Homo sapiens: one gene and its partner. Changing the gene in region 1 together with any one later gene gives a genetic interaction. Each region holds a gene or a part of one and is shown on either strand. Other genes may lie near its edges. The genes, in order: CDC45 and ATR.

Region 1 (3,824 bases):
ACCCTGTGGGACTGGGAACAGCCTGAACACAAGAACTTGGTCTTTGTCATCTTTTTTTTTTTTTTTTAAGGAGAGTCTGGAGTACACTGGCACAATCATGGCTCACTGCAGCCTCAAACTCCTGGGTTCAACTGACCCTTCCTGCCTCAGCCTCCTTAGTAGGTGGGACTACAGGCACATGCCACCACGCCCAGCAAATATTTGTTTTTATTTTTGTTGAAATGGAGTCTTGGCTGGGCGCGGTGGCTCACGCCTGTAATCCCAGCACTTTGGGAGGCCGAGGCAGGCGGATTACGAGGTCAGAAGATTGAGACCATCCTGGCTAACATGGTGAAACCCCGTCTCTACTAAAAATACAAAAAATTAGCCAGGCATAGTGTTGGACGCTTGTAGTCCCAGCTACTCAGGAGGCTGAGGCAGGAGAATGGCATGAACCCAGGAGGCAGAGCTTGCAGTGAGCCGAGATCGTGCCACTGCACTCCAGCTTGGGCGACAGAGCGAGACTCCGTCTCCAAAAAAAAAAGAAAAGAAAAATCAGCCTGGAGTTGCTTTCAGACAGGAGTTTTAGTCACCACTTAGGGGTTACACATCTTCATGTCCTATATCAGACAGAGGCCAAGTTGTGGGGCGTTCATTTTATTGGTGTATGACGTAAGAGGATGCTGTGTTTCCAGACTTAAGTAGACTAGATGGTTCTCAAAGAACTGTTTTCAGATTTTCATAATTTCTGCATACCACGTATGGTGTAACTCTGGTGCCTCACTGGTAATGAAAACAAGAAAATTCCTTAGAAGCCTGGAACTCTTGTTAAATAGGTAGCTATTTGTATGAACAGGAAACTGAGTCAGCTTATTAGGAAATGATAAGATTCTGCAGAAGAACATATTGTATAGTTTTCCGTAGAAAGAGGAGAGGCTTAATTCCTTTTTGTTTTGAACTTAGATCAAATTACTCATTAAACAAGATGATGACCTTGAAGTTCCCGCCTATGAAGACATCTTCAGGGATGAAGAGGAGGATGAAGAGCATTCAGGAAATGACAGTGATGGGTCAGAGCCTTCTGAGAAGCGCACACGGTTAGAAGAGGTGAGTTTGGGTCTCTCACAGCTATCCCAGAGGAACTTGCACTCCCAGAGGTCGGAGGTCATCCTGAAGCCTGCCAGGCCAAGGTGTACTGAGGGCAGTGGGAAGTGGAAAAGTTAGCAGGCATGGATGCTGACCCTGGGCTCTGCTGTCCCCTGGTTATGTGGCCTCAGGCAGGTTACTGGACTTCCCTAAATAGTGGCTTATCTGTCCAATAGGATCCTGTCAGAAGAAATGAAATTTAGGACAGCTCAGCTCTGCGGCTAGATAGCAAAAAAATAATGTAGAGAAGCAATAAATAGTGTAACCCCCACCCCTTCCTTTTCTACTGTCTTCTAGCATCACTTACTATGCAGTCACTGCAGAGGAGCAATGTGGGTCTGCATCCCTTGGCCAGGCCCAGTCCCAGACAATTACTGCAGGGGAGGTATCTTGTATGTGAAGATACCAGTGGTTTTCACCATGTGGACCTTGGGTCTGAGCTGCTTAGTGATCTGGGGCTGGGCCCAGTGGCCTACCCAACACTACGGCTTCTGCAAGATGTAAAATGACAGGCAGAAGGTGGTTGTTCCCATAGCACGGAGGGCCACGTGATGCTTTTGAAGATGGCCTCTGGCTCCTGATCTTGGTGTGTGACCTAGAATTTGCCCCCGTAATGTTCTAGGGTCTTCCCTTCATCCTCAGCCTGACATTTCCCGGTAATGTGCTTTTGGGAAGCCTTTTTGAGCCATATTTGAGATGTTCAAGACATTCTTCATTTGGGGAAGGGGCAATGCCCTTCAAACTGAGGCATGCTTCTCTCTTCTTTCTCACCTTTGTCACCCCTTTCACTAGGTTTGGGTGTCTCATAGGGAACCTCTTGGACCCACTGTTATATTTTCTTACCTCTTGCCCAGCTCTTTGTTCTATTTTTTGGAAGACTTTTTGTTTTTTGTTTTTTTTTTGTTTTTTCCCCAGACGGGGTCTCTCTCTGTTTCCCAGGCTGGCCTCAAACTTCGGGCTCACTCGATCTTCCCACTTCAGCCTCCCAAGTAGCTGAGACTAAGCACATGCCACTACACTCAGCTTGGTCTTTATCTTCTAATCTTTGGTTTGTGAGGGGTCCTTTTTGTTCTCTGAATTTTTTTTTATATAGCATTCTTTTAACTATCGATGAGCTGCATTTCATTGGTTCCCAAATGTCAGTATCCAATGGGATTTCCCGGGAAACATTCATGTTCTACAGATAAGTCTTGGAATTTTCCACTCTGACTAATAAACAAATATTTTTTAAGCACTTACTATGTGCCAGGTACCAGTTAGGCCCTGGGGTGCGGGTATGAGAGCAAAGTCCTGCCTTTGCAAAGCTTTCCATTGGGGGAGACAGATACTGATCATGTAAATGAGCACAATTAGGGAAAGCTTTCAGGTATCAAACATGAGTTAGCAGGGGATGGAGCCAAGAGGATTCCTGGGCAGAGCATCCATAGACACTGCAGCTCTGAGGTGGGAAGGAAAGTTTCAAGGAAGGCTTGGCCAGCAGTGCCAAAGGAACAGGCAAATGAGAACAGACCAGTGGGTTTGGCAATAAAGAGAAGGTAGGTTGTCTTGATGAGATACAGGAAAATAATCAGCGTTTCCTTTTACATACTTAACACATCAATTTGGAATTTGTGTTTGTAAATGTTTAACATAATATTCATGGATTATAATAGGCATAATTTCCCACCAACTTTTTATTTTGAAATTTTTTGAAATGTATACAGTGGTTGAAAGGATAGTACAGTGAATATCCATGTACCTTCAATCTAGAGTCAACAGTGGATCATGACTGTAGGTGGTCTCAGCTACTTGGGAGGCCAAGGCAGGAGGATTGATGAAGCCCAGGAATTTGAGAACAGCCTGGGCAACATGAAGAGAACCTGTCTCAAAAAAAACAAAAACAGTTTTTCACATTTGCCACATTTGCTTTCTTTCTGTGTATTCTTTTTTCTGTATTATTTGAGAATAGATTGCAGAAACTGATATTCTTTTTTATTTTTTATTTTGTTTTTTCTTGAGATGGAGTCTCACTCTGTCACTGAGGCTGGGGTGCAGTGGCACGATCTCGGCTCCCTTCAACCTCTGTCTTCTGGGTTCAAGCGATTCGCCTGCCTCAGCCTCCCAAGTAGCTAGGATTACAGGCATGCACTGCCACAGCCAGCCAGAAACCATGATATTCTACACATTCTTTCATAAGCAGCTCCTAAGAATAAGGACATTCTTCCCCATAAACACAATGCCATTGTCATACATAAGAAATTAATAATATCCTAATATCATGTAATATTCAGCCCATATTCAGGTCTCTTTAATTGTCCTCAAAATATATTTTGCAGCTATTTTTATTTCTGAACTATTCTCCAATCAAGATTAAGACATTTAGCTATTCCTCTTTACTGTCTTAACCTAGAACCATACCTTACCTCTTTTTTTTCTTTTGTTTTTAATGACATTGAAGGCCAGTTCTCTTTTCTAATATTTACTACTACTTGTTTCTTCATGGAGTACTTTAACTTGCTTCTCTATCCCTGCATTTTCTATGATCTGTAAATTAGGTCTAGAGCGTTGATTTTAATAACATTAAGCATTCTTGAGAAGAATACTTTTTATATAATTAAAACCTGTGCATGATTTATAACTAAGTATGTGTATATTAGAGGTATATATATATTTTTTTGAGACGGAGTCTCGCTCTGTCGCCCAGGCTGGAGTGCAGTGGT
Region 2 (3,824 bases), on another chromosome or scaffold:
AAGTTACATGAAGAAAGTTGGTAATTCCCTTACAGAATTTTTTATAAGGGAATTAAAATTTATAGCATTTTGGTAAGAGGAAAAACAGGATGTAGAGAGAAGGATTTGTTTAAACCTTCTAAGACTATAGAACCATAGTCTATATATAGACTTAAATAATATAGATCAATTTAGATGTTTATTTTGCTTTATGAGACTCTAAAAGTAGTTTCACTAGAAAACACCTAACATCTAATACATTCTTGCTGCCTATGAATAATATAAATATATTTTCTAAGGAATATTTCTGGAAATTATTTTTTATTTTCTCAGTACTTGTTGGGCCCACTTTATGCAGCTTTGAAAATGGAAAGTATGGAAATCATTGAGGAGATTCAATGCCAAACTCAACAGGAAAACCTCAGCAGTAATAGTGATGGAATATCACCCAAAAGGCGTCGTCTCAGCTCGTCTCTAAACCCTTCTAAAAGAGCACCAAAACAGACTGAGGAGTATGATGACCTTCATTCAGTTTGTATTTAGCCATTAAATAAAACTTTGTTCACTTTTAAAAATCAGCTTTAGTTAAGTGCTTTGATTTAAATACACAAAGAACATCTTTCTAAATGTAGCCAAGGGAGTGCTTAAAATATTTTTATAATTATTGTAGACGGTTAGTAGTATAAAACATTTCATGGTTAAATATAGTTACTTTGCATGTTTTTATATGCTTATCTAATTTAACTTTTTAATATGTGAAAAATCTTTGAGACTGTGCATCTATTAGCAATTTTTAAAACATTAACCAACTATTTTTTATAAAGTGGCTAAGTTGCCATATTTCAGTTACTTCTGAACATTGTTTTAATTGTTTTAAATCTTAGTATAAATTTCAGGCTGGGCGCGGTGGCTCACGCCTGTAATCCCAGCACTTTGGGAGGCCGAGGCGGGCAGATCACGAGGTCAGAAGATCGAGATCATCCTGGCTAACACGGTGAAACCCTGTCTCTACTAAAAATACAAAAAATTAGCCAAGCGTGGTGGTTGGCGCCTGTAGTCCCAGCTACTCGGGAGGCTGAGGCAGGAGAATGGCGTGAACCCGGGAGGCGGAGCTTGCAGTGAGCCGAGATGGCGCCACTGCACTCCAGCCTGGGAGACAGAGTGAGACTCTGTCTCACAAAAAAAAAAAATTTTTTTGAATAGTTGATATTACATAGTATGTTTTATTCTAAATATGTTTCATGTTTTAACCAAATTTATATTGCATATGAATATCTCTCTACTATATTCATAATTATAGAATTAAACATGTGGACATGAACCAAAAGAGCATATTATGGAGTGCACTGAAACAGAAAGCTGAATCCCTTCAGATTTCCCTTGAATACAGTGGCCTAAAGAATCCTGTTATTGAGATGTTAGAAGGAATTGCTGTTGTCTTACAACTGACTGCTCTGTGTACTGTTCATTGTTCTCATCAAAACATGAACTGGTAAAACAAACTTCTTGTTTCTTGGGGTTGGGTTTCCTGTAATGAACTTGGATTTACTGTTTACTCATTATTCACTTGACTCATGTAACCTTAGAACACAAACTTTTCACTGAAGTAGTTAATAAATTTATTTTCTATTGAGTCAAATGCTAGGTACGGTGCTAAGCACTGTATATATCTTAGTTAATATTTACAATAGTCCTGTAAGGTAAAGGCTATTATGCCTATTTTAAAAATTAGAAACTGACACTCAGAGAAACTGAGGCTCTTTTTTGTCTGAAGCCAAAACTGACTTTCCTGGGGACACATGATTAGAAAGTACCAGAACACATTTGTGTACAACTCAAAACCCAGTGTTTGGCTGTTGAAGACAGGGTCTCGCTTTGTCTCCCAGGCTGGTGCACAGTGGCATGATCATGGCTCACTACAGCCTTGATCTCTATCCGGGGCTCAAGTGAGCCTCCCATGTAGCTGGAACTATAGGCATGTGCCGCCACACCCTAATTTAGAAAAAATTTTTTTTGTAGAGATGGGTTTCCCTATATTGGCCCGGCTGGTCTCAAACTCCTGGGCTCAAGTGATCCTCCCACCTCAGGCTCCCAAAGTCATTTGGTTCCCAAATCCTAAGGGTGATTTAAGCTGACATAAATAGATTCAACTTAAAATAGTAATAACATATTACTTGATTTGCATGTTTACTTTAAATTGTTATAGATAAATTTCGTACTCACAATTTCTTTTGGCTTTACTACAATTTTATGTTTGACTATAACAAAATTCATCTTAATTCCAATGTTTTTAACAAAATGTACTTACTGCAGCCGTACTTTCAAGGACTGTCAACATAAATCCAAGAAGAAACCTTCTGTAGTGATAACTTGGATGTCATTGGATTTTTACACAAAAGTGCTTAAGAGCTGTAGAAGTTTGTTAGAATCTGTTCAGAAACTGGACCTGGAGGCAACCATTGATAAGGTGGTGAAAATTTATGATGCTTTGATTTATATGCAAGGTGAGTACAAATTAGCAACAGATCAGAATAACCTTTAAAGATAATCAGTATAGAAATATGCTTTCTTTTTTGCCTGAAGCCTAAGTGCGTGTTTGGAATACTCAGAAGTTTTTTCCTGATTTCAGTTCTATTAAATTTGTCAATAATAGAAGTTCTGAGTTGCCAATTTATGTGCATAATATTTTGATTCTTTAGTCAATAGAAATTATTTATAACTTCAAAGTTTTTTAATTTGGGAGTTTGAGGAATGCCGTGATTCTTCTTTAAAACAGGCATAGATAACATGTTTTTATAAAGTCACATTTAATTTCTTTGGGTTCACAGACCTCAGACCATCGTTTATAGATCTCTGTGTTAAGAATTTCTGCTTATCCAATGATCATTATGATAGTATTTCAAATGTCTTTATTTTTATTTAAAAGAGATATGATTAAGGAAAAGTTATAATTAATGACTTATTTTGTGCTTCTGTAGTAAACAGTTCATTTGAAGATCATATCCTGGAAGATTTATGTGGTATGCTCTCACTTCCATGGATTTATTCCCATTCTGATGATGGCTGTTTAAAGTTGACCACATTTGCCGCTAATCTTCTAACATTAAGCTGTAGGATTTCAGATAGCTATTGTAAGTGCTCACAAGAATGTGTGTGTGGTTTGTTTTATTTATCTATCTATCTATCTATCTATCTATTTATTTATTTATTTATTTATTTATTTATTTATTTTTGAGACGGAGTCTTACTCTGTCGCCCATGCTGGAGTGCAGTGGCGCAATCTCGGCTTGCTGCAACCTCCGTCTTCAGGTTCAAGCAATTTTCCTGCCTCAGCCTCCTGAGTAGCTAGGATTACAGGTGCGCACCACCATACCCAGCTAATTCTTATATTTTTAGTAGAGGCGGGGTTTCACCATGTTAGCCAGGCTGGTCTCGAACTCCTGACCTCAAGTGATCCACCTGCCCCAGCCTTCTAAAGTGCTAGGATTACAGGCGTGAGCCACCATGCCTGGCCTTGTGTGGTTTGTTTTAACTCATCTCTATATAGGACTTCTAAGACTTATTTATATTTTTTTCAATAATTAAAAGAGCAGGTACATTTTTAATAGTTCAGAAGGGGGTTAGATACATAAAAAGTAACACATAAAAGCCTGCCCCACATATCCCATTTCCTTTCTTTTTGTAAAACATTTGCAATGTGTCCTTACATATCATTATCTTCATTTAATAAAATTAGGAAGTATTTGAGAAATATTTTAAAAAGAAGAACAATATACCAAAAATTCTTATACCAACTTCTCAGTTTAAGAAATAGAAACATTAGGCCAGGCACGGTGGCTCACGCC

Evidence for each region.
Region 2: changes in CDC45 (region 1) and ATR are lethal when combined (synthetic lethality), as found in Homo sapiens cells (one large-scale study listed by BioGRID).

The regions. Positions count from the first base shown.
Region 1 is NC_000022.11:19,482,920-19,486,743, forward strand, and holds part of CDC45 (cell division control protein 45 homolog), read left to right. Parts: intron 1-942; coding exon 943-1,086; intron 1,087-3,824. UniProt on the Homo sapiens protein: Required for initiation of chromosomal DNA replication. Core component of CDC45-MCM-GINS (CMG) helicase, the molecular machine that unwinds template DNA during replication, and around which the replisome is built.
Region 2 is NC_000003.12:142,557,910-142,561,733, reverse strand, and holds part of ATR (serine/threonine-protein kinase ATR), read left to right. Parts: intron 1-312; coding exon 313-491; intron 492-1,279; coding exon 1,280-1,471; intron 1,472-2,292; coding exon 2,293-2,483; intron 2,484-2,957; coding exon 2,958-3,110; intron 3,111-3,824. UniProt on the Homo sapiens protein: Serine/threonine protein kinase which activates checkpoint signaling upon genotoxic stresses such as ionizing radiation (IR), ultraviolet light (UV), or DNA replication stalling, thereby acting as a DNA damage sensor.